Homo sapiens: one gene and its partner. The protein of the gene in region 1 interacts with the protein of each later gene in a pairwise test. Each region holds a gene or a part of one and is shown in the gene's direction. Other genes may lie near its edges.

The links.
Region 2: the proteins of SLF2 (region 1) and SFMBT2 interact in binary tests that used the Homo sapiens proteins (3 or more experiments, as listed by UniProt).

Annotation. Positions count from the first base shown.
Region 1 is NC_000010.11:100,908,097-100,924,918, forward strand, and holds the start of SLF2 (SMC5-SMC6 complex localization factor protein 2), read left to right. Parts: upstream 1-4,866; 5' UTR 4,867-5,014; coding exon 5,015-5,154; coding exon of another isoform or gene 5,155-5,206; exon of another isoform or gene 5,207-6,973; intron 6,974-7,902; coding exon 7,903-7,946; intron 7,947-8,473; coding exon 8,474-9,204; intron 9,205-10,287; coding exon 10,288-10,345; intron 10,346-15,878; coding exon 15,879-16,822. UniProt on the Homo sapiens protein: Plays a role in the DNA damage response (DDR) pathway by regulating postreplication repair of UV-damaged DNA and genomic stability maintenance.
Region 2 is NC_000010.11:7,163,406-7,179,436, reverse strand, and holds part of SFMBT2 (scm-like with four MBT domains protein 2), read left to right. Parts: intron 1-3,271; coding exon 3,272-3,447; intron 3,448-6,775; coding exon 6,776-6,942; intron 6,943-7,278; coding exon 7,279-7,542; intron 7,543-8,380; coding exon 8,381-8,509; intron 8,510-15,526; coding exon 15,527-15,667; 3' UTR 15,668-16,031.

The DNA of each region.
Region 1 (16,822 bases):
CTACAGTACCGCCCCTCTCCTCACTGAGGCTCAGTAGTAGGTGCCTCTTATTATCATGCCCATGCAGACACTAGACAATGATCATCATTTTCTAATTTGTAGGAATGTGGTGAAGATTAAATGAGTCAGTACTCATGAAGTGCTTAGAACAGTCTCTGGCCCATAATAAGGTTCAGTAAGCGTTGGCCATTGTCATTGCTGTTGTTAAGAAATATTTCTTTAATCCCAAGGCTTTATAAAAGTTAGGAAAATCGACCTGATTCACTCACTTCAGTTACCTACCTAGCCCCTGTAAGCATAAGTGCGAGACCACTCTTTGTACCACTTGAAGCCAGAAATCTAGAATTTTGTGTGAAATCTTTTGGTTTTTAAATGTTGCTCCGTGTCTTTAAACAACTCTTGGCCGGGTGCAGCAGCTCATGCCTGTAATCCCAGCACTTTGGGAAGGCGAGGATGGAGGATGGCTTGAGCCCAGGAATTCAAGATCAGCCTGGGCAATATAGCAAGACCCCGTCTCTACAAAATTTTTAAAATTAGCCAGACATGGCGGCATGTGCCTGTAGTCCCAGCTACTCGAGAGGCTAAGGTGGGAGAATCACCAGAGCCCGGGAGGTTGAGACTATAATGAGCCATGATTGCACCACTGCACTCCAGCCTTGGCTGTTCAGTGCCACCAATACACACAAGTATGAAATATGAACACAGATTACAGCAATGACTTTTAAATATTTCGACCATGGCCCAAAGCAGGGGCCACAGGAATACCTTTTACATCACTACCATATAAAATATATATACAATTGAAGAAGTAAAAAGTTGCAAAACAACACATGCCCATATGTTGTGTGCAGTGAACAGACATTCTCTATTCCATTGTCTTTTTCTTTTTTAAAAACATGGTCTGTAACCCATTACATCAATTTCAAAATCCTCTAAGGAGCTGCTAACCGGGTGTGAAAAACACCTAAATATGGGATAGAATCCCTAAAATCAATATTTCCCCAAGAGTTTCTTATATTTCAGATGTACGAGTAATATCTACGCCTATCAATGCCTACCACCACCACTGGTAAACAAGATAACTCTAGAAGAAACTTGGATATATTTATATTTTTAAACTAGTTATATATTTTTACTAGTATTAGTTTTTAGTTATCTTCCATTTTAGGAAATTGATACTGATTTTCCACTTACGGGAATGATTTAAAGTTTTCTCCTAAAATAAATGTACTTAAATTTAAAAAGCAATTTAAGGAAAAACATTAATAAACAGCATAGGAAATATTCAGACATGTTGAAAATCACAAATACGTGTCTCATGTATCTGAAGTGTGGGAAACTATCTGGCACCATTCTATCATGATAGAACAAGAAATGGACGTTCCTTCACATTAGATCTGCTTTTGCGCAGCTCTACTAATTACTCCCAGAACGTTAGGTTACATGACATGATATTAGTTTACATTTGGCTTTTCCCCAGCAGCCGCTTAAACCTGGGAGGTCCTTTTTCCAAGCACTTGGGCAGTTTCGAGTTTGGCATCCTTTTGCACAGTGATTTGTGTGGATCTTGAGATGCTGTGAGCTTGCCATCCCTTCTTGAGATCATCACGTGGTCTGTCTTTCTCTGTCAGGCTTTCAAGTTAATTATTTCCTGTTTTTCTGAGTCTGTTCCTTATCCCCCTTCCCAGGCCACCCTCTACCCTCACCTTCACCTCCCCCCAGCAGTTCTACAGAAAATCAGTCTTTGTCTCTTGGCCTGCCCTAGAACACCTTCCAACAAGAGCCTTGGAGTTAATTAAATGTGTGGCAATTTCAGAGCAAAAATTTATTACTGGGTACAATCAGAAATTACTTTTAGAGTTCTTTGCTTTTTGGTAACATTCTCTGTCACTTACTGACCTTTTGTTCTCAGTCCCTGCCTGCTTAAGGTACTGTGTGAACCAATCTGCCCAAGCTGTTTTCTCTCTGTGTGACTGCTTAAGATCTCTGGCATGAGTTATACTGTCACTCCTCTCAGGAACTCCCACGTTGGGCTTGATTTTCCCAGCAAACTTGATCTGTTGTTCATGTAACATTGTTTCTGCTGCTGTCCCATTCCTTCTCATCAAGGCCAGAGCCCCCTCCTCCTGTTGTCTTTAACAAGGCAGGGTGCTAAACTGAGCTGAGCTGCACCCCCACAGAAGCTTTGTGCAAAGAAGCCACTCCATTTCTTCAATCTTTGCATCCTCATCCCATCCCCATGCCCAGAAATCTTCCCAAACTAGCCTTTTATGGTCATCCAGCCTTAATTTCTCTTTTCTTCCAAATCCCAGCTAAGTTTTGTCTTAAGTCTCTAACTGGGTTTGGTTACATTGTTCAATGTCCTTTCCCCCCAGTAACCCCCCTGCCATCCTAGTTTTCTCTCCCCTATTAGCTCCTCCTAAGCACGCATCTGAACTCCTTAAATCTTTTACCTAGTGTAGTTTCCTGGTCATCTCCTTTTAGCCCACTACAAATTGAAGTGTAAAAAACCCTTACAATAAACATGTGTGCGTGCACACGCATGCATGGTATATACGTACACATTTAAACTAGGAGAAAGGATATAAACACAAAATAGACTGTCCAGTACTATTTGGGGGTGGGAGGTGGAGAAGAGCCCTAGGCCCTAGAAGTTCCCCTGGGGTTCTTATTAATATGTTGAACATATTTCACCCTGCAACCCAAATCTGTACCACTTTCGTACACAGCTTAAACAAAGAAGAGTCTTGATGCTTATTGAGGATTTAGATAACTACTTCCCGTTAAGAAGATATTTTTAAAATTGTGTTTTCATTATGACTCCATCTCCATTTATTGATCGAGGGATTTCTTGCCTCACTTAACTCCATAATCTGTTACTCAGATTAAGAAAATGAGAAAACTATTGTTTGGTAGTTTGAGTACAGGCTTTAAAGTGATACTTTGGAGGCTGGATGATTCAAGTACTATAATCCAAGAAAAGCAACTAAATGATCATGCAGAACGTGTTTTTATGCATTACTCTTTATCGATTAGGCATGCAAGGAAATGAATCGGATTAAATGTTTCGTAGATGTGCTCTGTTATAGTACAGAAACTTCCTAGTGTAAAAACATCCAACAGAAAGCACTAAGAGATAGGAAATAATACATGTAAAATGCAAATGTGTAAGTCATTCAACACATTTTGAGTATCATGTTTTTTTATGTAAAAAACAATGTTACGTATAGTAAATTCTCCGCTATTAGGAGCAGAAAAGTACCCTCTATTTTGGCACTTCCCTTCTTCCGCCACCATTAGCTAGTATACAGCTGTACATATGTGCTTTTGGGGTGAATGTGAAACCTGTATATTCACTGTTTACCTTCGACCCTCTACTTTGCCAGCTTTTTGTCCACTTTATTCCTTATTAATTCTTCCTCCCGGGGACTAAAGGGGAAGGGAAAAGGAGGTGAACTTGGAGTCAGTCAGGCATGCTTAGTGACCAGAACAGTTCAATTTCGTTTTTTCTAAATTTTAATTAATTAATTTATTTTTGAGACAGGGTCTTGCTATGTTGCCCAGGCTAGTCTCCAACTCCCGGGCTCAAGCTATCCACCTGCCTTGGCCTCCCAAACTGCTGGGATTATAGATGTGAGCAACTGTATCAGGCCAATAGTTCAATTTCTATACAATAAACTTGAAAGACCCGTCCAAATTATTTTATATCATTTAAGATTTTTTTCCATCCAACTGATTAAATAACTCTGTCAATTAAAGCTTGGACATCTTGAAATTGATATTTTGGTTGTTAACAGTTATTGCAACAGTATTTGACCTGTCTCTGGAAGATTTTGTAAAGAAGTAAAATTCGCTGTAGGAATCTATCTGGGGAAGAAAGGGAACTATAATTTGCTCTGTACCTGTTACATGAGAGAATCTGAACTGTGCAGTGTACACTGTTTTATCCTTTTATGGTTTACAATTACCCAGAAAAGTGAGTAAAATGCCCGTTTTACAGATGTGGAGGCTGAGGTTCAGAGATACTGACCAGTCTCTCGGTTTATAAGGAAAACCATGGCTAACAGCCTCCAGAGCACAAGCCCTTTACAAAGGAGGGTTGGAGATTGCAGGCAGCTTTTACTTATCTATGCTGCCCACGCTTAACATGGAAAACTGAAAGCTGACCTTGTGTTCCTTTAAAAAATCTCCAAGGAAGTCGGCTGCAGAGACTTCATGGTAACTCATGAGAAACAAAATGCTTTTGTGGATTAACAACTGTCTTTATTCCAATGGAGTTTTTTGGGGGTTTTTTCTTCTTCTTAAAGACAAAAAAATAATCTACCGCTGACACTCAACAAGAACCGTCGTAGAATGGACAAGTCTTCGGATCGCGCTGTGCAGATCCCTCAGCAAATTGTGACAGTATTATGGCACTTTGGCCTAAGCTGTTAAAGAGACGATGTAATGAACAGCTGCGGATTTCTGAGGCACAATTGTGTGACACAGGAAGCCCAAGTGTTGGCCATCCTCAACGAAGGCAGCTGCCGGGCTCCGGTTTGCTTCAGCAAACCCTCACCCCTCGCCTTCAACCAGGCGGGTGTCGTCAGCTGTCCGCCAGCTGCTGCCCGCGCCTTTCCGCCCCCGCGCGCCGGCCAAGGCCGAGGCGGCCGGGACCAGAGGCGCGCGCCCTCAGTGCATGTGACGGGGTGGGAGGGGGAGGTTTCTTCCTCCCCCGTCCCCAAGCCCCGCCTTCTCCAGAGAGGCTGCGGCTTCCTATTGCGCCACCACCGAAATGACCACCGTGCCAGCCAATCAAGACGTGATTCATGAAGTAAGACCCGCCCCTTACTGGTCCCCAGGTTCCTTCCCGCTCACGCCGGAGTCACTTCCGAAGAGAGAACCGCCATGAAGAGAGAAGGGGGTGCCGCCCACCTCTGCTCCGACAGCCTCCCGGAGTCCCAGCAGCAAGACGGCAACCACGCACCCAACTTCTCCAGCCACGGCTCATGCCGCCGTCGCCAGCGGCGCCGACATGACAAGGCGCTGCATGCCCGCTAGGCCAGGTTTCCCCTCATCCCCAGCCCCGGGGTCGTCGCCCCCGCGCTGCCATCTGAGACCCGGTAGTACCGCCCATGCTGCAGCGGGAAAGAGAACAGAGAGTCCTGGGGACAGGTACCGTGCAGAGGGCTTGAGAAGGGGCCGGGTCGCGGGGGCAAGGGTATGAGGGGAGGGCTGCAGACCGCCGCTCTTCCAGTTCCCGCCATCCTCCGCGAGCTCAGGCGTTGGCATTTCGGGGCCTGGCAAATCCCCGCCCCGCCTCCGCGCAGGGGCTACTGGGAGTTGGAGTTTGCTTCTCTGTAGTTGGGCAGCTGCTCTTGGTCTAGTGACCACCAGCCTGGACAGCTACGGAGAACCCGCCTTAGGTAGAAAGAAAGTGATTTTTTTCCTTTGCAAGAGTTTGACCCGGGACCCTAACTGCTTAATGCATATTTAGATCGTTTTCTGTACGTTGTCAGTTCTACTGATCCTAGTGGTTTAGTAATATAAACCTTTTCTATGTTGTGGGTGAAATTATGTAACCTGTGATGAGGGAATCCCTTCCACGAATTACTTTGTAGTCCAGCGTGCACGCTAGTTCATACTTAAAAGAACTTGCAGATTTGGAATGTGACGTGTTTTCTCTTTCAGTAACTTCACGCCTCTCCAAGAGGCTAATTTTTTTGTAAAGATTTTGTGGGAGCTATGTAATGAGATGGGGAGTTTCATCTAATGACATCCTCTGACAATAAAACATGTTTAAATTCCCTACGAACTTGGTACTGTCTTTTATTTTAAGTTAAATTGTATTAAGTTTTAACAATATTCATGTTACTAATACTGTGGTACAGGCCCACAATCCCTTATCTTAACTCTGAAAGCCAGAAAGCTATGAAAACCAAAACGTTTTCAGTAAGTTTGGCACCACATCTTACTGGGCAGCCAGATCTGACTAAAACTAATGTAAGGCTGTTTGTGGTCTTTATCCCATTAAGTGTGAATATTCATGTTTTGCTGGAGAAATGTCAGTGGATTTGATTACAGGTTGCAGCACCAGACCCCACTGGGGACTTTCCATAATACATCCAAGTTATCCCCTTCCTAAAATCTGATAAATTCAGAATTCTAAAACACATTTGGCCCCAGAAGGTTCAGATAAGGGTTTGTGAAACTGTTATAATTGTGTGTGTGTGTGTGTTTTTTTTTAAGCCAGTTGTTAAATAAGCAGTGGACATTTTGTGTGCATATGAACTTAGAGAACCTACCTCTTGAAAGTTACATTCATGGTTATTTTACAGGTTTCTTGTATGTTTTACCCAAAATCATTTTTTCTCTTTCTGGTGTATTAATCAAAAAGGAGTCTGAGGTCCAATATTTTAGGGAAGAGATACAGTGTTACATTTAGTAAAATGCATTTAGAATTATCTTGTGTGCAACAAATGAGCTGCTTCTGGGTCCCTTCCCATCTCTCCTCAATCAATAACAAGATCAATAACAAGGTATCATCCTTCTTCCCTTTGCAGAACCTCCAACATTTACTCTGGTGGAGTTAATTTGCCTAGTATAATTTATGTAAACAAATGCATATATTCTTCCATAGCCCGTCACTCATATTCATCTCATAAGCACTTAGCTTTTATACCAGCATCTCAAACAAGCGTGATGGACTTGGTAAACCAGTAAAGATGTGCATTGCTCTTCTAATGTGACCAGTAAAGTGTACAAGAAGCTTAACCTTCAAGAAACTTGGATTGTTGGAATTTTCACTGAGCATTCCAACCTCATAGTGGATGAATGTTTAGGGAAATCAATAGTCTATAGCTTATTCTCTTTCAGTAAAATGATACATTTTAGCAAAATTTACCAGAAAGTTAATTTTTTGTTCAGCATATCATAACATCCCCTTTTTTGCAGCTGACAACTCTACAGTGAACAAATCAGAATACGAATTCTGGTAATGGATTCCTATTTCACTTTAGCATTATTGCCAATGTCAGAACTTGATTAGTTAAGCCAGATAATGAAATCCAGTCTTTACGGTACAGAAATTCTTAAAAATTAATTTGGTTTTTGTTATTCTTGTTAACTTTCTTCCTTTTCTCCTTGTGTTTTTCCCAAGCAATGTGTTATTTTTGTAACTATCTTAAGGATTCTTTGATAAAAAATTAAGAATTTGAAACTAGTTGTGACAACTCATTCTAATTTCTGCTGTTACTTAGATTAACATCTTAATGTATAAAGAGGGTAGCATAAGTTTGGTATTTTTCTTTTCTGCCCTTGTCCAGCAAACTCCTCTTCAACTGATTCCCTAGATCAGCCAAATCACCTGTATTGCCATTCTACCATCTACTGTTCTACTCTTGTTATGAGAGTCTGTTCAAGTTTTACTCCATTTTTATAATCCCCATTATTCATTTGGCATACATCTATTGAGTTTTTTTTTAGCTTGTTATTCTAAATTTTAAAACGCAGCTGTGCTTAGATACCAAGTAATTATTTTGTATCAATGTCTGCAGAGAACAAGTAGGTTCATATGCTGATACCCAAGATGTTGCATTCTACCATGTAGCCGTGAACATTTCAGTCTTAAGAAGCACTCTGTACTAATTCCTTGGGTCTACACACCAGTCTGACCTATTTAAGTACTATAAATAATATAAACCTCAGTTGTATTTTTATAAATGAACTCCTATAGGAAGTGATACGTTATATTTTCTGTTTTTTTAATGAACAGTTTAGCAAAGCATTGTTACCATTGTCAGAACTTTATTAAACCAAATAGTGAAATCCAGCCTTTATTTTATAAATCTTTCTCCATTTAATCTGAGTTATGAAGGTTTTAATATTTGCTTATATGATGCCATATTATGCTTTTATTTTCAGGAAGCAGTCAATTATAGATTTCTTCAAACCAGCTTCAAAACAAGGTATGTACACTGTTGATGCATTTTTTGTGGGCTATTTTGGGGGTGAGGAGAGAGACAGATTCAACTTTAAAACCTACTCTAAACTGTTTTAGTAAACGTAGTGTTCAAAATTGAAAATAAAATGAAGATGCAGTATTTTGTTTTACAAGGATAAACTGAAGTTCTAAATATGAAAGTCTTTTTGCTGTTATGTTTTCTTACATTTAAAATATTATTCTAGTAAAAAATTTAATGTTCATAATACATACTATTTTGATTCTCTAATACAGTAATTTATAGAGCCATAGGGAGGTTATATGATGTACCAAAAGAGAGCTTTATGAAACTAAGGCTTTTAACAAATAAATCATCTCTTAATTTCTCCTATACCCCCCAATAAAGTGTGTATCATTATCCAAGTTGTTGGTTTGAAAATTTTTGTGGTAACATTAGTATAGTTTAATTTATATTTTAAACATTAATAATTTAGATAAATATTAAATATTTTACTAACATGCAATTTGTATGTGTTTTAATTGGCTATTTAGACAGACACATGTTGGATTCACCACAAAAATCAAACATCAAATATGGAGGAAGTAGATTGTCTATCACTGGGACAGAGCAGTTTGAAAGGAAACTATCCTCACCAAAAGAATCTAAACCCAAAAGGGTGCCACCAGAAAAGAGCCCTATTATAGAAGCTTTCATGAAAGGTGTTAAAGAGCACCATGAAGATCATGGTATACATGAGTCACGTCGGCCTTGTCTGTCACTAGCCTCCAAATATTTAGCCAAAGGAACAAATATCTATGTTCCTTCTTCATATCACTTGCCAAAGGAGATGAAGTCACTAAAGAAAAAACATCGATCCCCAGAGAGAAGGAAGTCACTATTCATTCATGAAAATAATGAGAAGAATGATAGAGATCGAGGCAAAACCAATGCAGACTCCAAAAAGCAGACCACAGTGGCAGAAGCTGACATCTTCAATAACAGCTCCAGAAGCCTTAGCAGCAGGAGCAGCCTGTCCAGGCACCACCCGGAAGAAAGCCCACTGGGAGCTAAATTCCAGTTGTCACTAGCTTCTTACTGCAGAGAACGAGAACTAAAGAGGTTGAGAAAGGAGCAAATGGAGCAGAGAATCAACTCCGAGAATTCTTTCTCAGAAGCAAGCAGTCTTTCCTTAAAATCTAGTATAGAAAGAAAATATAAACCAAGGCAGGAACAAAGGAAACAGAATGACATCATACCTGGAAAAAATAATCTGTCAAATGTGGTATGTGTAAGAATTATTGAATTAGCATTGCTACTGCTATGTCATATTTAGAATACTAAATTTAAAAATATTTAAGAGTTGTTACATCACATTGACGTCTTTCCTGAAGGAAATACTTATGCACAGTTTGTGTAGAAGCTGGTTTCATTACATTTCCTCCAGTTGCCCTTCATCGAACTCAGTAAAGCAGTGTTTCTTATCCTTAGTTTTTTCAGACTGGGAACAAAGATCTTTTTTAGTCAGAAAAGTAAGCATTCTTTTTTTTTAAGGCAAGTATAGTCTTACTTATTTATGTGTAGACAGTCTTGCTCTGTTGCTCATGCTGGAGTGCTATGGCGTGATCATGTCTCATTGCAGTCTCAAACTCCTGGGCTCAAATGATGCTCTCACCTCAGCTTCCCAAGTAGTCGAGACTCCAGGTACCTGCCACCATATTTGACTAATTTTTGTATTTTTTTGTAGAGACAGGTCTCCCTATACTGCCCAGGCTGGCCTTGAACCCCTGGCCTCAAGCGATCCTCCTGCTTCCTGTACTTTGGGAGGCCTAGGTGGAAGGATTGCTTGAGCTCAGGAGTTTGAGACCAGCCAGAGCCACATATCGAGACCTTGGCTCTACTACAAATAAATAAATAAATAAATAACCAGTCATGGTGGCATGTGCCTGTTCTCCTAGCTACTTAGGAGGCTAAGGTGGGAGGCTCGCTTGAGCCCAGGAGATCAAGGTTGCAGTGAGTTTGATCACACCATTGCACTCCAGCCTGGGTGACAGAGCGAGACCTTGTCTCAAAAATACAGTGTTCTAATATAATATTCTTGAATTATTGATATAAACGTAAATCAGCATTTTGAAAACTGACTTCATTTTTATGATATTTTTACATGTTTATGATACAAATGCCCTTAATTTTTATGACAAAAACCTTAAGATCTTTAAATATTTTATTATAGACATTAGGATTTACCTCCAAATATGGGTGCTTGCCTTATTCAATCTAGAAATCTGTGTTTAAATGTTAGGAAGAATGCCTTCACATTCTTTACTGTCCCCAACACTTAATTAATTTTATCTCATTGTGCTCATAGGAAAATGGACATCTCTCAAGAAAAAGATCCTCTTCTGATTCATGGGAACCTACTTCAGGTAGAATCAAAATTAAATTTATGGATTTCTAAATAAATTTCCATTTTAATGGCACTGCTTTTTAAAATAAATTTGTTTAAATATGCAGTTCCCTTCTTGGGGATGAATTAAGTGTCTCATATTAATTAAGAGTTTGGTAAGATCATATTAAAAAAGACTAGTCCCTGAATCTAGTACTTATAATTTGGGTTTGTTTTTGAGACAGGGTCTTACTCTGTCACCCAGGCTGGGATGCAGTGGCATGATCACGACTCAACTGCAAGCCTTGACCTCCTGGCCTCGAATGATTCTCCCACCTCAGCTTCCTGAGTAGCTGGGACTACAGATGTGGGCAACTATGCCTGGTTAATTTCTTGTATTTTTGTAGAGACGAGGTTTCGCCACGTTGCCCAGGCTGGTCTCAAACTCCTGAGCTCATGAGCCACCACACCTGACCTAGTGCATATAATTTGTAATCTGTCTTGAATCTCTGCCCTCTTCAGGAGTTCCTAACAGTATGTTTCTCATACTGGTATTCAGTGTTTCCTTCTGAATCCTTGGCTACATCAGGAAACATAATCTTTTTTTTTTTTTTTTTTTTTTTTTTTTTGAGACAGAGTCTCGCTCTGTCGCCCAGGCTGGAGTGCAGTGGTGTAATTTGGCTCATTGCAAGCTCCGCCTCCCGGGTTCACACCATTCTCCTGCCTCAGCCTCCCAAATATCTGGGACTACAGGCGCCCACCACCATGCCCGACTAATTTTTTGTATTTTTAGTGGAGACGGGGTTTCACCACGTTAGCCAGGATGGTCTCGATCTCCTGACCTCGTGATCTGCCCACCTCGGCCTCCCAAAGTGCTGGGATTACAGGCATGAGCCACTGCACCGGGCCCCCAGGAAACATAATCTTATTATCTTGGAATTGTAGACTGAGTTGTTGGTATTATGTTGAAGATGCTTTGTATAGGGTTGAGACTGTTACCATGATAAAAAGCAGTGTTCTCTAATATTTCAAATCCAAGGATCCCTTTTTAATATTAAATTTCAAGGATATCTACATGACATTAGTTTGTACTTTTAGCATTTATTGATTGAAAAAAATATAAAATAACAAATCTGTTAATTCAGTACATTTTATCTTTTTTTAAAACTAGAAAATAGAAGATTAAAAAGGCAAACACTGCAGAAGTTTGCAACAAGAAATGAAAGGTCTCCACAACTAACAACAGTTAATAGTCTAGTGTATCCGATTTTTTTCCTGATGTGACTATACATTTTGAAAAACAAATTCCCACATTCAGTAAGATACATTGGACACGATAATAATAGCTGGCTTTCATTGAGTACTTACTGTGTGCTATGCCATTTTATGTGCTTCTAATTCGTTTGAACCTCATAACTTTATATGATAGTGGTTTACTTTTAGAGATGGAAAAGCCAAAGTACAGAGAGTCAGTTCTAATTCCTCCTTCAGGTTTCATCTACTTCATTTTATTTATATTTTAGAGGTGCATTGCATTTTGACCAAGAACTCTCAACTGGTAAAATCAATCTTCAGCCAAGGCTGAAACCATATTTTACCATTATAGAAGGAACTTCTAGGATACAGGAATAAATCTAAAGTTTTGTGTGTTTTTTGTTTATTTAATTTTTATAATGTTGCTGATTTTATGACCAAATTTTAGTGAATTTTGACATTATTGTAGAAGAACAGGAATTTCTCAGCCAGGAGATTGCTTCTGCACTCACTGTATTGCACATTTTTAATACTAAATACATGATCACCTTGCACCAAAGTTAATGGAAGAACAAAATATTATTTTATATAAGGGGCTGCTGCTGGTGGTGTGGCTACCACATTATTCCTTTTCTTTTTTCTCTGACTTAAGATTTGAAAAAATCTTTTCATTTCCTGGATTTGCAAATTTCATTCATGGTGGCTAAAGTAGTTTCATTTATATAATCCCACCTAGCAAAGTTTTTGAGTACTGCTTGGAAAAGATGCTTTCTACATATTTTCAGAGGCTGACTTATGATGGTTGCCGTCACTTATATTTTTATTACCAATATTTTTGCATGTGTTTCATAATCACTAATAATTATAGCATTATACTCTTAATAAATATACATTTATACTTCAATTGACTAACATCAACAGAATTTCAACATGTAAAGGACAAGGGGATATTTCAATCTAGATAGCATGAAGAATGCTTATTGTGTCTGATAGCAAAATTATTAAAAATCTAAGCCAGGCGCAGTGGTTCATGCCTGTAATCCCAGCACTTTGGGAGGCCAAGGCAGATGGATCACCTGAGGTCAGGAGTTCGAGACCAGCCTGGCCAACATGGTGAGACCTCGTCTCTACTAAAATTACAAAAATTAGCTGGGCATGGTGCCCAAGCCTGTAATCCCAGCTACTCAGGAGGCCAAGGCAGGAAAATTGCTTGAACCTGGAAGGTGGAGGTTGCAGTGAGCTGAGATGGTGCCACTGCACTCCAGCCTGGGTGTCAGAGCAGGACTCAATCTCGAAAAAAATAAATAAATAAAAATAAAAATCCAAATGATATGTCTTGTTCATCTTGTTAATACACTTAATCAATTGTCATGGTAATGTACATAATCACGCAATCATTAATCACATACAAGTTCAGGGATTTCAGAAGTAATGTTAGACTAGGCATTTAGCCCTTTGGTCTTCTAGAGCCCTGTCTTTTGGCTGAATTGTGAGGGGAAATTTAATCCATTGCTAGTACATTTCGTAACTGATTAATAACCAATCACCTATTAATGGCCTTTGGATTTTTCCTTTTTCTTGAGATGGAGTCTCACTGTCTCCTAGGCTGGAGTGCAGTGGTGAGATTGTAGCTCACTTGCAGCACTGAACTCCTGGGCTGAAGCAATCCTCCTGCCTCAGCCTCCCAAAGTGCTGGGATTACGGGCGTGAGCCACCATGCCCAGCCTCCTTTTTTTCTTTTTACAAACTCAATCTCTCTCTTATATGAATATTTTATGTATTAGTATATTTGAAATATTTGAAAAACTGTAAAACAAATATTCTCTACAGGCTGACAAAGGATACAAAAAGAATTATGAACATTTTGCAATTAATCACCTGACCTGAAGAGCTTGCTAAAGGGGATCCTACCTGCAGTACCAATTCACTTTTCTCTAATTCTAGATGATGAAACCCCTTAATAAGCTGACTTATCCTAAACATCTTCCACAAACAGTGTTTGTCTCCTCCTGGATCAACCCTGAATAATGCCTGAGCAAAGCAGGAATTTCTCCTCATTTCTAGCTATATTTAAATTATCTGACTTCTCTAGAAAAATGGAACAAAACTCAAACTGGCAGCTCTGTAGCTCATTTTTTGTAATCCCATACTTAAAAGTAAGATAATGAGCCAAATCTTCTCTTTTGTTTAGTCATTTAATTTCTCATCCTGTTACCCCTGTCCTTTTTGTAAGACATTTAACCCCAGAAAACTGAATAGGATGGAATGATTTCCTCAGGTAATGGGAGATATCTGTAAAAGAGCAGAGATAAGGGCATTTGTTAATTAGTTAATTTAATTTTTATAAATTGAATTTTTCAGATTATATATTGATCAAGCTATCCAAATAATAATTGCCTCTCAAGTTTGGTTTTGGCGGGTTTATTTTATTTTATTTACTCATTTTGATTCAAGGTCTTACTCTGGTGCCCAGGCTGGAGTGCAATGGCACAATTACAGCTCACTGTAGCCTCACGGGGCTCAAGCAGTCCTCCCACCTGAGCCTCCAAGTAGGTGGGACTACAGGCACATGCCACTGCACCCGGCTAATTTTTGTATTTTTTGTAGAGACTATTTCACCATGTTGCCTAGGCTGGTCTCAAACTCCTGAGCCCAAGTGATCCTCCCAAAGTGCTGGGATTACAGGCATGAGCCACTAGACATGGCCAAAAGATAAGAAATTTTCTAACTAGAGAAGGGATTGACGGGGTTGTACTTTTCGCAGAGGCAGGGTTTCACCTGAGCTCACGAACTCCCACCTTGGCCTCCCAAAGTTGTGGTATTACAGGCATGAGCCACTGTGCCCAGCCATTTTAGGTTTTTAAAGCAACTCTTGGGGAATGGAGACATCTGTCCATGTGCAGAAAATTTGATTTAGGGAAATCTGGTTTGGGGAATACTGATTGCACAAATAGTGAATTTTTTGTGTTTTTTTTTGTTGTTGTTTTGTTTTTTTGAGTTGAAGTCTTGCTTTGGTACCTAGGCTGGTCTTGAACTCCTGGGCTCAAGTTATCTTCCCACCTCAGCCTCCTGAGTAGCTGGGACTATATAGGCACACACCACTGCACCAGGTTAAAGTGAATTTTTTTTTTTTTTTTTGAAACGGAGTCTTGCTCTGTTGCCCAGACTGGCGTGCAGTGGTGCCGTCTTGGCTCAGTGCAACCACCACCTCCCAGGTTCAAGCGATTCTCCTGTCTTGGCCTCCCAAGTAGCTGGGAGTACAGGCACGCACCACCATGCCTGGCTAATTTTTGTATTTTCAGTAGAGACAGGGTTTCACCATGTTGGCCAGGCTGGTCTCAAACTCCTGACCTCAAGTGATCTGCCCACTCCGGCCTCCCAAAATGCTGGGATTACAGGTGTGACCCACCGCACTCAGCCCACAATATGAATTTTTAAAAACTGGTTCATTCAAATGTATGTGGTTATTAAAGTACTTCTGGATGGGGCTATAATAAATATAGCTTATATTAGTTTCCTAGGGCTGCCATAACAAAGTGCCAAAACCAGGGTGGCTTAAAACAACAGGAATTATTGTTTCACAGTTCTGGAAGCTAGAAGTTTGAAATCAGGATATCAATAGGGCCGTAATGTCTCTGGCAACTCTAGGGGAGAATACTTCCTTACCTCGTCTAGCTTCTGGTGTTTGCCTGCAATCTTTGGCATTTCTTGACTTACAGCTGCATCACTCCAGTCACATAGCATCTTTTCCTTGTGTATTTTCACCTTGTATTCCCTCTGTGCATGTCTGTCTTTGTCTCCAAAGACAAAGACACCTTTTGTAAGTACACCAGTCATACTGCATTGGGACACAGCGTGATTTTTTTTTTTTTAATGAGAAATTAACATTTATCTGCCTTCAAGTGTTTATCCTATACGTGTTTTAAGGTACTATACATTTAAATGTAGAAGTGTTACATTTCTGCAACCAGGTAGTCCTAGGTCTAAAAGAATTTCCAGAAGTACCTATGGCATCCTTAACTTGGTACAAATATGCAGTTGTTTGTTTTAGGGAGTGGCATCTTTAATTCTGTTAAGGTGGTAAACTTTTCATAGCTTTGGAATGAAAATGAGCATTTGTCATTAGCTTTAAATTTCTTGGACACCAGTATTTATCCAGTTGATAAGTAACTCTTTTTCTGCATTCCATATATGGTGACTAATCTCAGCCTTAATACTTAGAATTTTAAACCTTTCATTAGGGTGTTCTAGACACTGAATAAACTTTACTAAAGTTGGAAAGTATATTTTTCACTAATCTAACAAAAATTAAATTTTAGCAGGCTCTAAGCAGAATAAATTCCCTGAAAAAAGAAAAAGGAACTCTGTGGACTCAGATCTGAAAAGCACAAGAGAATCTATGATACCAAAAGCAAGAGAGTCCTTCCTTGAGAAGCGTCCTGATGGACCACATCAGAAAGAAAAATTTATAAAACATATTGCACTGAAGACACCTGGTGATGTGTTGCGCTTAGAAGATATATCCAAGGAACCGAGTGATGAAACTGATGGCTCTTCTGCAGGCTTGGCACCTTCAAATTCTGGCAATTCTGGCCACCATTCTACCAGGAATAGTGACCAAATCCAAGTGGCAGGTACCAAGGAGACTAAGATGCAGAAACCCCACTTACCTTTATCTCAGGAAAAGTCTGCAATTAAAAAAGCTAGCAACCTTCAGAAAAATAAAACCGCTAGCTCCACGACAAAGGAGAAGGAGACAAAACTACCTTTACTTTCCCGTGTTCCAAGTGCTGGTTCCTCTCTAGTACCATTAAATGCTAAAAATTGTGCTCTTCCAGTTTCTAAAAAAGATAAAGAGCGTTCCTCATCTAAAGAATGTTCTGGGCATTCTACAGAATCCACCAAACACAAGGAACACAAAGCAAAGACTAATAAGGCCGATTCTAATGTATCTTCAGGGAAAATTTCTGGGGGACCTTTGCGCTCAGAATATGGCACTCCTACAAAGTCTCCCCCTGCTGCTTTGGAAGTTGTGCCATGTATCCCAAGCCCTGCAGCACCTTCAGATAAAGCCCCTTCAGAAGGAGAGAGTTCAGGAAATTCCAATGCAGGTAGCAGTGCACTGAAAAGAAAACTAAGGGGTGATTTTGATAGTGATGAAGAAAGTTTAGGTTACAACCTAGACAGTGATGAGGAAGAGGAAACATTAAAGTCACTGGAAGAAATAATGGCTTTGAACTTCAATCAGACTCCTGCAGCTACA
Region 2 (16,031 bases), about 94 Mb from region 1:
CAGTTGTGCTGTTTCTTTTGTTTTTTTTTTTTTTTTTTTTTTTTTCGAAAATGCAACAAAAGCAATAAGCAAGAACCGCCCCAACGTGGGTCCTGGAGTCCCTCTTCAAAGGCACGGAGAGGGAAGTCTCTACACATAGGGTCAATGGAGGGCCTAGAAAAACCAACAGCCATTCAAGGCTGTAGGATTTAAAGCATGATCTTATCTACAGAAGATTACTTTCTAGTTCTCACTACATGGAAAGTCAAGCTCGACCCATCAGAGAAACTGAAGAAAAACAAACACCCAGGGGCTGGGATATGAAAGACCCTGAATAAATATGAAGTAAATTTAGTAGAGTATGCAGATAAAAAGTACAAGTTGGAATTTAATCCTTAATTTTTTTTGCCGTTGATACTTTAAAAAAAAAAGATTTATTAGTGGAAAAGTATTTTTCCAGTCTTTAGAAAGACATTCCTAAAAAGCTGGAATTTCATATTTCAGTAGTTTGGTGATATGTGAACGAAATAAAAACCTATGATCTGTTGCCAGTTGAGAAGCTGACCATTACTTTGTCCCCATGATAGGGTTAAAAATCTGTCAAAAGGTGATTGAAACCTACAAGTGCTTGTGTTTTCAGCCAGGCATTATGTATATCATATTCCCATAAATATTTGGATAAGGGCTGTAGTGCCTAATTTTAAAACAAGAACCCATCGAATCTGCTTTTTGTAGCTCTGGTTGCCAGTTTTACACTGGTGAATTCATTACCTGCGGTTTTTCTTGGGGCAGGAGAAAGTTTTTTTCTTAAAAGTGATGAGCAACAAGTGACAATATCTAGGTTCCAGAAGCATGTCTCACTCTAAATTCTTTGTTGTGTGGGTGGGTGTGGGGAGGGATGCGAGGAGCTTAATTTTTATTCTTCACTAAATAGTTACGTTTAAGGAAAGCAGTATTGCACTTGATATTTATATATGATGGCAAGACAGTGCCATCTCTTCAAGCAATGTTTGTTGACGTTTTTGGATTCCCATATATAAAATCAGTTCCTTGTGGATAACTATAAAAGGCGTTTGGATTTCCAGAACTCTCGTTTTCCTAGTGCGTTGAAAAGGTTTTGGGGAAAACTTCCATACCCTTCATCTAGATTGGTGTTTCCTCTAAGATCAGAGACAAGTGCTTAAGGAGGACCTCAGAGAAACCTTAGAAGATGTGAACCGAGAAGGAAAGGTACAAGCAGGCAGCAGCCATGGTCAGGAGAAGCTGCTGTGTGGGTGGTGGGGAGGTGCAGGCAGGCAGTCCGGGGGTCCCCATTCTTGTCACCCCCCACCACCGGAGGAATGAGCCTTGTCTCAGTCAGCCCAGGCTGTGCAGCAAAGAGCCACAGGCCACATGGCTTTTGCAACGATGTTTATTCTCTCAGTGCTCTGGAGGCCTAAAGTCCAAGATGAAGGTGCCAGGGTTGGTTTCTCCTTAAGCTTCTCTTTTTGGCTTGTGGATGGCCACCTTCTCCCTCTGCCCTCACATGGTCTAGTCTCTGTGCATGTACACCCCTGGTGGCTTTTCAACTTCTTCTTCTTCTTCTTCTTTTTTTTTTTAAGAGACAGAGCCCCACTGTGTCGCCCAGGCTGGAGTACAGTGGTACAATCATAGCTTATTGCAGCCTTGACCGCCTGTGCTCAAGGAATCCTCCTGCCTCAGCCTTCTCAGCCTCCCCAGTAGTGCCCCACCGTGCCCATAGTTTTTAAATTTTTTGTAGAGATGGGGGTCTCGCTATGCTGCTCAGTCTGGTCTTAAACCTCTGGGCTCTAGCAGTCCTCCTGCCTCGGCCTCCCAAAGAGCTGAGATGACAAGGATGAACCTCCACACTCAAACTTTTCATCTTCTTACAAGGCCGCCACTCCTATGGGATTAGGTCCCCACCCTTATAACCTCGTTTAATTTAATTACCTCATTGAAAGCCCCATCTTCAATTACAGTCCTATCGGGGGTTATGGCTTCAACCTATGAATTTAGGAGGGACATGGTTCAATCCATATAATAAGAATGAAGGTCTCCTATGTGAGGCCCCTCAGTTAGATTTACCGCTTTTTGCGGGGGGCGGGGGGAGATTTAACTGGAGAAATGCCTTTTATTTTTTCCTAATACACAAATAGACTGTAGCTTTCCAAAGACCTCAGTCTAATAAGAAATAGAGATGCATATGAAGTACTGTTGATTCCAGCGTGCATTCTCCTTGCAGTATGATTTCATCCACTATCTATCACTCAATCAAGATTTGAGTCTGTGGGGAATTGCGGTGAAGGTGTGCATGTTCAGAAAGGATTCGATTTACTGCTTCGGAGAAAGCAACCGAAGCCATGGAGGGGGTTGCTGGGGGGACTGGAGAGCAGGTGGAAGCAAGTTTTAGTTCCTGGAGCAATCTTTCACCATCCCAACCTAGAGGAGAGGAGTGGCCAGTTACCCTCATGGGCAGAGTATGGCAAGCGGCATTACCATTTCACGTTGCTCCCTTTACACTTGAGAGATACAGCAGCCTTTTCCTTTAACTGCCACTCATCCACCGGAGACCCCTTACGATTCTGTTTACACTGAAGCCACTTGCTGCCAGTGTCTGCAAGGCTGGGGGTCTTCACTCGGTTTCCAGGTCCCAATCATACAGTCACTCTGCATTTTTAATGGTAGCTTTTTTCTTTCTTTTTTTCCCCTTATAAAATCCATTGTGTTTCTGTCCATTTAAATGTGACCTTGCTTACCTATCACCATTCTGCACAGATGCCATTTATGAATAATGGAAATCGTCCCCATTTCAACAATATGATACACAGTCTTGACAAAGATATCCTTTCAGTGTTCTGAATTTGCATGGTTTTCAAGGCAGAATCCTGATCCCATATGCACTCACATTTTTCAAAAATGAAATATGATAGCAACAGGAAAATACCCATTCGATTTCACTAACCTCATTTCGAGAGCCATGCCCATCAGGTATGTATCCCGCACCGCTCATCTTTGGTATGAAGTTGTATATAGCAAAATGAAGGTGTGCTACATGTGGGGGTGTTTATGGAAGTGGATTCTGGTTTAGCACTGTTACGACACATTTGTTGCACACTAGTGAGCACTTCTTATAAATATCTCTGTGAGAAATAACAGAAGCAACATGGGAAACTGCACGCGATATGCTTTGTCATTGGAAAATGAAGTTGCTGCCTTCGGAATGTGTGGTACAGAATAGGCCTGAATCATAATCTGGTCTTGCCCTCGCTTTTCTTCCCCACCTATTTTCTAGATACAGAGGCAAAACATACAGGGCTGTGGTCAAAATCGTACGGACATCTGACCAAGTCGCAAATTTCTGCCGCCGAGTCTGTGCCAAGCTAGAGTGCTGTCCAAATTTGTTTAGTCCTGTGCTGATATCTGAAAACTGCCCAGAGAACTGCTCCATTCATACCAAAACCAAATACAGTAAGTACAAATAATGAAAAAAGAAATGCATGAGCCCAGAGACCTAAACTGCACTCTAAGGTATTTGGTTTTTGTTTCATTTGCTTTTTTCTTTTTGAACCTTTTGACTAGTCTTCCATAGGAATTGCTATGGAAGGATTTTTAAGGATTTGCTGTAGCAGATACATGTGTTTTTAGCCTGACATACGGAGGGGATGGGATGATTTAAAACAGGATGAATTTTCATTGGTAGGCCTTGGAAAAGAAGAAGAGGAACTGTGTGTACTGTCATGAGTTTCAGTGGATTGATTGATTCTACAGCTCAATGGATGGCAGGAGAGCACAGTAAAATTGATCACAGTAACAGTAACCCAGATGACTCTTTCAGTCCTTACTCTGGGATAGTGTAATGATGCTTTCATTGCCCTTCTTGATACGGGGGCCACATCCTTGTCATAATCGGCTTCTCATGTTTAGACGCCTTCCTCAGCACCCTCACTGAAGAGAGCCATGGAGGACTCAGAAGCCACCATCACTTTCTTTTCTGCCAGTTGGCTTTGCCTCTCTCCCAGGACACAGGGTGCAGGACTCAGAGCTGTCCCCACTCTCCTACCTTCAGCTCTTGCCTCTTCCATCCCCAGTCCCATTCGAGGATGTCTGGCCTTGGGCAACCGCTTCCCCTGAGCCCTGCCCTTCTTTCTTTCTGATGACCTTCTCCATCCATAGTAGCCACTCCCAGACACCTCCACCTCCTGTGCCTGAGTCCTGTTCTCTCCCTCTGACCCACAGTTCTGAGTTTCCTGCGTCTCCCCTCAGTTCTCTCTAATGCAAGGGGGAGTGACCTGGAAGTTAGCTCTGCCAGCCACGTTCCAGCCAGCTGGGATGTGACAAGGGCTTGGCCATGTGGCCAGTGCTCTGTGAGCCACAGTCACTTGTGACGTTTGTCAACATGGGTGCTGGAACCAGGAATCTGAATGTACTGGAAACGCTGTGCAGAGTGTGACTTTCTTTGTATTTTATTATCTCTCAGTGTGTTTCTACACACACACAACACACACACACACACAGAGTCCCCTTGCCACTCTGCCTTCTGATGGAGGCCAGCTGTGCCCTCACTGATCACACAGACCTCCCCTCATTCTGTGCACAGGGCCTCTCAGGTAGGGCCCGCAGGTGTGTTGGCCCAGCAGGTCACCTGGTTCCGGAAGAGCTTGTTTCTCCATCACTGCACCTTTTTCCAGGGGAGGGCTTCACTGGGAAACAGCAGCTCCTGAGTAAGAAAGGCCTAACCGAGGGCTCGCCTTTGCCGTGTACGGTGAATGCTTACCTGCCAGGTGGGCTTCTGTGTTCTTCCAGGACACTGGGAATGGCAGGGAAGGAGCAGGGTCCCACACCTCCCATTCAGCATTGCCGAAATGAACTCAGAGATGTCTCCGGATCTCATATAATAAAACTCTTAAGTCCCAAGATCCTTTGGGTTAATTTATAATGAATGTTACTAAAGGCTGAACAGAGGCTCCAGTGGGAGGAGGACAGAATGATATTTTGGGGGAGTCAAACACTGGAAAAGCAGGGGTCACCCAGTCTCGTTCTAAGGCTCCAAACACATACTGGCCTTTGGCTGCATTCCCTAAAACCAGTTCTCATCCCCAGCCACTGGCTTCTAAGAAGCCAGCCTGCCCTGGCCCTGTCATGCACGCTTGGGGTTTGGGAGGGGACAGAGGCTTGCTCATTTGCCCCGTACCTGGAGATGGCCACAGAGCAATGCTCGCCCACGGCAGTTTATTCCTGCTCACTGAGTAACACGGTCCTTATAGAACTGGACACGGGACATTGTTCCAAGCTCTCCTGCCAGCTGCTCCTTTTGAGAGATTGATGAGAACAGGCCGGGGCTCCCGGAGCAGGTGTGCCTCCTGGGAGTTACAGGGCTGCTGCTGTGCGGCTTCCCGACAGTTTTTCCAAATGCCATGCTGTGATCAAACGCAGGGGAGGAGGTGGGACATAGAGGGTCTTAGGCCTGAAGGAAACCTATGCTTGTTAGTCCTGATGGTCTCATTTTGTAAGTAAGGAAATTGGGGTGCAGAAAGGATAGGTGACTTACCTGTAGGACAAAGCCCACGACTCAGTACTGTGAGAATGCACTAAAATCATGCTCCCTGCAACGGGGCTGCTGCAAACCAGGGGTGGTGCATTTGCCATTTTGCTTTGGCCCACCCCATTCGTAGATAAAGGTTCCTTGGCTGCATTCAGTTATTTTGTGGCTCATGGGCATCACATAGTGGGACGGTTGAACCTTTTATTAATGAGTAGGCGTCTGGGTCGTAATTGAATGCTGGATCCTTAGTGGTGGTTTTCATTAGCTGATGATACATTTTGTTTATAAAAAACATTAATCACTACTAAAGTTCAATAAATAATTTTTGAATTAAGATGTACACCTGTGTCTCTGCTGTAGAATTCAGAAGCAATGTGAGTCCCAGCAAATGAGAAGGAAATAAAGTATACAATGATGTAATAGAGAAGGAACTCTGAGAAGAGGAAAAGTGCTTGGTGAATTTGGCCCACGTGTTCAGGATCATAGCTTATCTTGGTCGGACCAAGAGCTGGGGGAGTCCCTCATGCCAGGACCACGCCAGCAGATGTTCACCCAGTGCTTGCTGACTGACCAGTCGCTCAAGATTCAGACTTGGGAGCAGGTGTCAGAGCACTCCGGTGGATGTCATTGCCACCACTGTATGCAGTGTCTGGGGTCCAGACAGGGATAAACTCCCGTGGGAACTGTGGACACCTTTGTCTCTTTCACCTTCTGCAGAAGTCAGCTCTGGCTTACAACAACATACCACAGACCCTGAGCTTTCACTGCGCACACTTACCTCCCACAGTCCTGGAAGCTGGAAGTCCAAGATCAGGGTGTCAGCAGCTTTGGTTTCTGATGAGATCCTTCCTGGGCCTCAGGCAGCCACCTGCACCCTGTGTCCTCATGGGGCCTCTCCTTTGGGTCTTGGGTCCTTGGTGTCTCTCCTGGACACTCTTAGGACCTCATTAATGTCCTATTGGATTAGGGCCCCACCCTTGTACACTCACTTTGGGGGTTCGGGACATCCAGATACACTCACTTTGGGGGTTTGGGCTTCAACACTGGGGACGGGCCAAGTTCAGCCCGAACACCTTCCAGACCTGAAGCTTTGGAGCAGTGCTTCTCCTGTGGGTCTGTTTTCTCAGAATGACTTCGTAAGGCACAAATGAACTATCAGATGAAAGAATCGTTTCCCTTCTTTCTCTCTCCTCTCTCTGTTCATGTCTGTGTGTGTGTATAGCCTTCAAAAGTTTCTCATCTTCCTTCCTACAGCCTATTACTATGGAAAGAGAAAGAAGATCTCCAAGCCCCCCATCGGGGAAAGCAACCCCGACAGCGGACACCCCAAACCCGCCAGGCGGAGGAAGCGACGGAAATCCATTTTCGTGCAGAAGAAACGGAGGTCTTCTGCCGTGGACTTCACCGCGGGCTCGGGGGAGGTATGTTCTGCCCGGGGCACCTGCCAGCCTGTAGCTCTGTCATCTGGCCCTGGCCGGCAAGTGTGGCTGCTTCACAGCAGAGGTGGCCCTGGAGATTGTGGCAAGATGGTCAGAAACACTGAAGAAGAGCCCCCTCCTCCTTACTTGCTGAAAACAAATGTAGTGTGTCCAGCTGCTTTGGCTGGGAAGGGCCTCGTAGGGCCCACGGGTGGGACCACTGGCTCCATTTCCGAGGGTTTGCTAGGTGGTCTGCACTGGGCCCAGGGTCTGACCGCGGGGCCACCGCTACAGGCCCCCGGGCCACCAGCCCCTTAAATGCCTTTTCCTCCTTCCCAGGAAAGTGAAGAGGAGGACGCTGACGCCATGGACGATGACACCGCCAGTGAGGAGACCGGCTCCGAGCTCCGGGATGACCAGACGGACACCTCGTCGGCGGAGGTGCCCTCGGCCCGGCCCCGGAGGGCCGTCACCCTGCGGAGCGGCTCAGAGCCCGTGCGCCGGCCACCCCCAGAGAGGACACGAAGGGGCCGCGGGGCGCCGGCTGCCTCCTCAGCAGAGGAAGGGGAGAAGTGCCCGCCGACCAAGCCCGAGGGGACAGAGGTGATGCCCGGGCGTGGGGACAGAGGGCTTCCCGCTGGGTCTGAAGAAGCACACCTGTTACACTTCAGGGCCACGATGTGGGGAAACCTGTTTAAAATACCTCCAACAGCAGCAGCTGCTCTAGCTAGTTCCCAAGTCAGGAACAAAGGCTGGCACTTCACCTCTGGGTGGAGGGGCCTTTCGGCATCAGAATGGAGTGCCCAGGGTGGAGACAGCGCCTCTTTCCTGGACGGCTTTAGTGCCACCTGGGTTCTTGTCAGGAGGAGGGCACAGTCCTCAGTTTCCTTTGAAGTCTGGGTTTCCAGAAATTCCTTCCCCGCATCTCCCCTGACTGCGCTGTGTCTTGCTCCCACGTCCCCTCTATAGGACACCTCTGTGATGTTTTAAAATATTTAATCAGTGTTTCAGGTCTCCCCTAGCCCCATGGGTGGTGTGAGATCAGCAGAAAGGGCCACTGGCACCACCATTACAGAAACACTGGGGGACACTGTCTCGTGTCTGCTTGGACGTGCCCCTTGTATTTCTCCTCTTTTCTCTAATCAGAGATGCTTCGTTCATAAGCAGGCCCAAGGTTTCCTGAACTAGGGATGCAAGAGCGACTGTCACTGTGCCTGCCTTCTTCCATCTGAAGGCACATGAGTCATTGCAGGGGGCATCATCACTGAGCCAAGAACTTTCTCAGGGACTGAGAGTGTGTGCAGCTTTTTCAGGTGCCCAGTGAGGGAGCAAAGGGAGGCAGTGGCTTCCGGCCAGGAACGGCCGAGGCCTGGAGAGTGCTGGAGAGGACCCAGCCAGCTGACTGTGCCGCAGCTGAGCTCCTCCTGCCCTTTCTCTGCAGGACACGAAACAGGAGGAGGAGGAGAGACTGGTTCTGGAGAGCAACCCGTTGGAGTGGACGGTCACCGACGTGGTGAGGTTCATTAAGCTGACAGACTGTGCCCCCTTGGCCAAGATATTTCAGGAGCAGGTACGGTGGTTGCCGCGTGTCGATTGTTTGATGTGCTGAGACTCTGCATCTGAAATGAACCTCGTGTCCTAGCCGGCTTCCTCGTGACACCTGCGAGGGGGTTCTTCGGCGCTGCTCGGCAGGTGTGCGAGACCCTTCTCCCTCCAAGGCCCCTGCTGAGAGCTGCCTGGCAGGGACGAGAGACAGAGCCTCATTCCTGCTCCTCTCAGGCCCCACCAGTGCCATGGTGGGGGGCGGAGGGGTGACTCTTCCAGGCTCTAGTGACACCACCCAGCAGGGGTGGGAGGTGCCTGTTGCTGCCAGGTGAGGGGTGCGAGTCCACGCTCCCCCTGCCATCTCCACCGACTCTACAGTGGGGGCTCTTTACCACCAGGCAGGGGTGAGAGTCCCAGTTCCCTGGCTGGCCCTTTCAGATGCCAGGTCAGTGGTGGGATGGGGTGCCCAGTTGCCACCTGGCCAGGCCGGAAGTCAGGATAGCACACTCTGCCTTGGCTGCTCTCAGTGGGGTCCGTCCAGCCCTCCCTGTGATGTTCAGCTGCAGAAGAGATGCTGCTGTCTCACGGTTTTTTGTCTTGCTGGGCCACCCCTTGGCCAGGCCTTTGTCTGGAGAGAACTGGTTTTGGTTGAGCCTCCTGTCAGTGCCTTTTGGCAAATCTGGGTTGCAGCTTCTTCAGCTCCAAGTCTCAGGGGCATGAAGCTCACACACAAACAGCAACCACAACAACCAGAGAGCTCAGCACTGTGCTGTCAGCTGGGGGCCCAGGCCCCTAGCCGGTCTGCCCTCCTTTCTCCACCTTCCAGAGTCTTCTGTTTGTGAATTTGTATATAATGCCCATGGATCTTACTTAGGCCTAGTGGGAGAAGGAGGGAACAGTGTATCCACCTGGCCTGCCCAGAGCAGAAGCCCGCTGGCTGGTGTGTCGTACTGAATGCTGCTTTCGTCATTGTTTTCTTACCTTCCTCACTTCTTTCTGCATAAAATATTTTTAAGACCATGGTATGGTGATGGACAAATGCAATAACAGTCGATATAATTTCTACCTTAAAGGAGCCTATAGTCCAGCAGATGAAATGAGTATAGTTAGCTAAAACACAAGATCATATGATGCTGTGTCCTAAGGAAGAAGAGAGGGTTTTTATTTACATTATCCCTTAAATTAATACGGAAACAAGTTGCCACTCTGCACACACACCACCTTGCATCCTGCCTCACTGGCCTTGCAGAAAATGCCAGGCTCTTGCTGTACTCTGTGCTTAATTTGTTGAAGTTTCTTGCGTTGTCCTGGTGTAAATATCTGTGTTCAAAGACCTCATGTTAAAAAAAAAGTACTGTTTTTCATATAATGTTAAAGATAGGTTTATTCAGTCTCTTTTTAGATCATATAAATCAGTAGTCTAGAAAGAGGATATTTCCAGCATTAAATCAGGAAACATAAAAGGTCTGTGACTTCCTGTGTACCCAGAAAATTTCCCAGCTTTTCTCCCAAGTTCATGCAGCAATGAACTGGAAAAAGCAAATTAAAATGGTCTCCAGTGCCACCCAAAGAGAGTAGTTCTTTCCCCTGTGTCCCGAGAAGTCCAAGAGATGAAGTAGTTCATCCTATTGACAACCACTAGAACCTTCTGCAGACACCCACTAAGTTCATGCTGAAAGAATGATTAGGCCGGCCATGGCGGCTTATGCCTGTAATCCTAACACTTTGGGAGGCCGAGACAGGCAGATCACTTGAGGTCAGGAGTTCGAGACCAGCCTGGCCAACGTGGCAAAACCCTGTCTCTACTGAAGAAAAAAAAAAAATTAGCTGGGCGTGGTGGTGGGTGCCTGTAATCCCAGCTACTTGGGAGGCTGAGGCAAGAGAATTGCTTGAACCTGGGAGGGAGAGGTAGCAGTGAGCCGAGATCGTGTCACTGCACTCCAGCCTGGGCAACAGAGTAAGACTCCATCTCAAAAACAAGCAAAAAGAAAGAAAGAAAAAAGAATGATTGGAGGCAGAGGGAGTCACCTCCTCACCTTCTCACACTGGCCACCCTTCCTGTCTGGACAACTCTGAAAAGCAACCAGGGAGAGACTTCCTTAGACCTAAAGAACCTGGGTGATGAGCTTGTCCCTTTAAATAACACACAAACAGGAAAGAAAGACAATTGTAAGAAATACAAGGGCTTAGGTGATCGGGGGCTTATTGATAAGCCACATCTCCATTTTGAAAACAAAATTAAAGCAATAGGTTGAAATGCTGTGTAAAGCGCTGCCCAGCACAGCACGTTGCCTGTCTGGCATTTATTGACAGTGGTGCTGCGGCGAGATAAGCGTTGTATTCAAATACGTGACAAGCGCTGGTCATGCATGTTTGGTTGCGCTGATCACGCAGGTTTGGTTGCACTGATGCGTATCTGTCAGTCCCTGTGTGCATTCAACATACACCGATTCAGTCCCTGCGAGGTGCCTTCTGATAGCTAAAGATACAAGGTGTGGCATTCTGTATTACTCTAATGTTTTGGTTTTATTTTTAGGCTCAAATGCTTAGTTTTCACAATAAAAAAAAATTTAGTTAGGCCTGAATGAAGAGCAGATTTCTCATTTCTAGATCCCAGGTTAGGTATGAGGGCTTATACCTTGAAACGTCAATAGCTCCTGTGTCTGTCTACACTGTGTACAAGTTCTCAGTAATAAGCAAGAAAGTGAAACAAAGCTGGTATGGGGAAAAGCCTAAAGTATTGAGTCTTCCTTTCTTATATTCCTAAGCCCAGTTGATAACACCAGAGAAAAGTTTCATGCCTTCCCTAAGCTAAGCCTTCTAGGAAATGGAACACTGCCGACACTGTCCCCCTTGTAGAATCAAGTTGCTCTTTTTTTTTTTTGAGATGGAGTTTTACTCTTGTAACCCAGGCTAGAGTGCAATGGCGCGATCTCGGCTCACTGCAACCTCCGCCTCCCGGGTTCAAGCGATTCTCCTGCCTCAGCCTCCTGAGTAGCTGGAATTACAGGCACCCGCCACCATGCCTGGCTAATTTTTGTACTAGACAGAGTTCTGCCCTATTGCTCTTCTAATATTAGTAAAAGCCTTGCCTTTCATCCCTACTTGTTTCTCTTACGAGAGAGAAAAATAGATAGACTTTCATTGATCATCATCTCATTCCTGTGTAATTTCACATTTCACATTAGGCAAGTTCACCTGTTGGAATAAAAAGCCATTGCCCACTGGGCTGTCTGAAGTACATGGGCACTTGAGTCCTTTTCTGTCCCATCAGACCTTTAATTACTAATTTTTACTAATTGGTTCATCGTCATTTAGCCCAAATACTCCAGCTCTGAGTTGGTGAGGCCTCCGGTAGGTCACCGCAGGCATTGTCTGAGATTACAGGTGAGCTAGAAGGAACCCAGAGACTTTCTTCACTGGCATGCGAATGAGATCACAGTGCACAGCATGGTCATCGCTATGTGCACGCAGGCCCTGAACGTTATAAATGCAGAGATTATTATAATTTGCAAAAATTCTGAACTCCCCATGACCAGCGTCTGTGCCTTTTATTTCTGAAATGTTATGGCAACCGCTTAAAAAATCTATACTCCATAATCTCATGCTGCAAACCTGTACATTACACAGTAAAAATCCACTCATCTATAACTAAGCACATACAACACTCTAAATAAAATTTTACCTATGTATTCAGCTTTCATCAGTCAGAGACAGCGCAATAAGCAGACTGCTCAAATGCTCAACTGACCTTAATGAAAAAATTTCAGGATAGTTTATAGGTTTAGTCCAGATTAAGCTGTCCTTTCTCTACTTCTCTAGATCTCAATACCTCCATTAGGAACTACCAGATCCTCACCCGAGTGCTCTATCAAAATCGATTTAATTTTGCCCTGTGCTAAGCATGTCGTATATCTTATCATATTTCATTTCTTTACAATTAGTCCATTGATGGTAGTTCTGTGTTTAACATTAAAAGTGATCTGCCGGCAGCTCTCAGTTCTATAGGAACATGTTTATAAAAATCAAACCACCTGTGAGGTATGCTGTTACCTAAATAATCCTTGAAAGAAAAAATAGTCTTCCAGATAAAGTGGCTTTCTGGGCTCGTCATGATTTTACCTTTGGTGTCTCCCCAGTTTCCTGGAATTCTATGTTCCAGGGAACTAGCTGTGTTCTTTCAGTCCCTCTTGGCCTTAATAATTCTTACTGGTCCCTGAAGTCTCAGTTCGAAGCCCTTTCAGCACCCCTATAAGACTGGCTTGGTTGCCTGTCCTGTTTGAGCCCTTAGCTCTGCATCCATATGTTAATATCCCTGTATCCTAATAGTCTGTTTACTTGTCTGCCACCCTCCAGATTCATGGGATGTCCAGAGAGGGAACCTTTCCTTTGTTCACTGTGACATTCCCCAGAGGCCAGCCAAGTGCCTGCCACTTAGTAGATGCTCAATAAATATTGGCAAGTAAATACATGAGTGTGTGCATCTGCACTGAAATGTGGTACATGCATTGGCCACCTTCACTGAAATTTTCTGTAAAGAAAGAGTTACACGAATATTTTCGTGCTGATAGTCAGTGGTGATTGAATCACCATCATGCCCAAGTACAGATGTTAAAGACTGAGCTACAGTTTTCCCTTCAAAGTTTAATGTCAGAAAACTACAGTTCTCATGCCAACACTTTCTCTAACTAGCTATGTGATCATAGTTAGATTGGCTAGCTTTTCTGGGCATTAATTTTCACCAGGAAAGTAAACTTCCTGGGAAAGTAAAATAAGTTCTATTTCTATTCTTTCCTGTTCTATGGATGTCATTGAACATAATGGTTAAGCCAACTGTCCATGGTTTAATGACATCCACAGAACAGAACAGAATAGAACATCAGCCCTCTGCCTACTTAAAATGTGTTTTTATGAGGCCCATGGTACCTGGAAGACTTTGAGTCCCTACACCCATGCCCTCTTGGTGTAATTTGATGTATTACATGTGGATTTGGCTCTGAAAGTGGAATTGGCCTACAGGCCCCAGGCCAGAGGTCCCCTTGGTTTCTTCGCGACCTAGAGCCAAACACTTATTTCACAGTACTCCCAAATCCCCCCAGCTGCAATCAGCCTTTTCTGTAGCATCTGAAAAGAAAGTAAAATAACATGTATGAGCACTATAGAGCAAGGGAAAAATGATATAAACATAGCATGAAAATATAGTGACAGTTTTCTACAGTTTGTCTCCTGCTTTCAGTGTGTATACAAGACAGATCTGTTTACTTTGTGATTTGATAAGGTCACCTTTGGTCTTGGTTGAACGTGGCTTCGAGTTGCTTACATCATAGCTAGTGCTCATCTGTAATTTAAAAATAAAAAATGACACTCACATTGATACTTTTAAAGTTAATGTTGCATTTTTATTGCTACAGTACTTATTAGGGAATATTGTTGCTTTTGAATCTGATCTGAAGATAAATTATTCCTGCTCTTAACATTAGTCTTTTGAATCTGATCAGATGATGAATCTATGCTTGCTTAGAAGATTAGTCTGCTCAAGGCTACCATTTATACACACTTTGCCTTTTTGCTTTAGATATTTTCAAGACAGCTAAATAAACCGTTAGTTTAAGAAAATAAGCTGCCTGTGCGAAAGTCACTGACAGGTGTTGTCGGAGACGTATGATCTTGTGCTTTTGCTTGGCTATTAATGTCCTTGTGGCTTATGGCAGCCCTGGGTATAATTCTTCTGCAAGTGGCAGAAATTCCAGTATGTAGAGCTCACTTAATGCTCTCACGGTACCACTGATCATCATTGCCTGGGGCCTGCAATCTCTCAGACCCCTCAGTGACTCCCTCTGGACGATTGAGATCATCTTGGTAAATAGGAGGGAGGATTGCGGTTAAAGTCAGCAGTCCGGTCAAATGACATCTATGTGAATGAACCAGATTACTATAGGAAGCAAGCTGCTGAAGAGACAGAGATGTCCAGTGGAAGGGTCTTAGAGCTTTGGAGTGGGTCTTTGTATGCTTCCTCCTGCAGCAAATTCAACTGAACATTCATTGAATGAATGTCTTCATGCCCTGTGTGTAGGTAGAGAAAGGCTGAGGCAGGACACAGTGGGGCAACAGATCTGTGTACGAGCGACACCTCGCTCTGGGGAGTGTGTGTCTGTAAATGGTGTGTGTGTGTGTGTGTGTGTGTGTGTGTGTGTGTGTGTGTGTGTTTCCCTTTATGGAAACCTGTGCTGTCGTTGGCATATCTGTCTTGAGCATCTTCTCACCCATCCTAATGGTGAAATGCCAGACCTTGGCAGGGAGCTGAGGGAGCCTTGTCTTTTAGTAGAGATTCCTTTGCTTAGTGCTCAGATGAAGTCTCAGCATCACTTAGGGAGGACCTGGCCCTGCCTGGGGTGGAGAGTGACTTGCCCTCCCAGCAAGGGGCGATAAGCTTGGGAAGCAATTCCCGCAGCAACCCACCTGTTCCAGCTCTTTCTACCCACCAGGGTAGGTATGTGAGTTTCAGAGTAGCCAGAGTGCCCTTAGCCAAAAGCTCTTGTATTTGTATTGTTGTTTTTTGTTGTTGTTTAGAGAGTCTCCTGCTGTGTTGCCCAGGCTGGAGGGCAGTGGTATGATCACAGCTCACTGCAACCTCAAACTCCTGGGTTCAGGTGATCCTCCCACCTCAGCCTCTGAGTAGCTGGCATCACAGGTTTGCACCACCATGCCCAGCTAATTTTTAAATTTTTTGTAGAGACCGTATCTCACCGTGTTACCCAGACTTGTCTCAAACTCCTGGTCTCAAGCGATCCTCCAGCCTCAGCCTTCCAAAGTGCTGGAATTATAGGCGTGAGCCACTGTGCCCGGCTACAAAAAGATTTTAGTAACACAAAGATTAGACAGTCATCAAGCCGGGCTGGTATCTCTACCAACAATCCCCTGAATTGAATGAAACAAGAGCATCCTGTTGTCATGTTTGGCCCCGGACTGGAGCCTGCTGTGACGCATCTGTGTACCCCAGTGCACACTGCCCCTTCTCTAACCTGCCTTTCTTTTCCTGCAGGATATTGACGGCCAAGCACTCCTGCTTCTGACCCTTCCGACGGTGCAGGAGTGCATGGAGCTGAAGCTGGGGCCTGCCATCAAGTTATGCCACCAGATCGAGAGAGTCAAAGTGGCTTTCTACGCCCAGTACGCCAACTGAGTCTGCCCTCGGGAGGTGGCCCATTATTGCTGGGATGCGGTGTTGGTAAAGGTTTCCAGGACTGAAACTTTGATTTTCCGGGATATGTTAAATGGTACAGCCACTAAGTATCACCAGAAAACCAGAAGCCCAGGATCTTCTGCCTCCGCCAGCCTGTGAGCTGTTTCCATGTTTTCAAAGCACAGCAGCAGTCGCTTCTGGGGAGTGCCAGTTAAAGTCATGCATCAGACCCTGCCAGACGTGGGCCTGCTTCTTGGCTCACCCACGTTTTGCCTTTCTCCTGCCCCAAATCAGGCAGCTCCCTTGGAGCAGGGTTTCCTCAGATGAGGACTGCATTCTTTGAAAACAAAGAATGTCGCCAAGG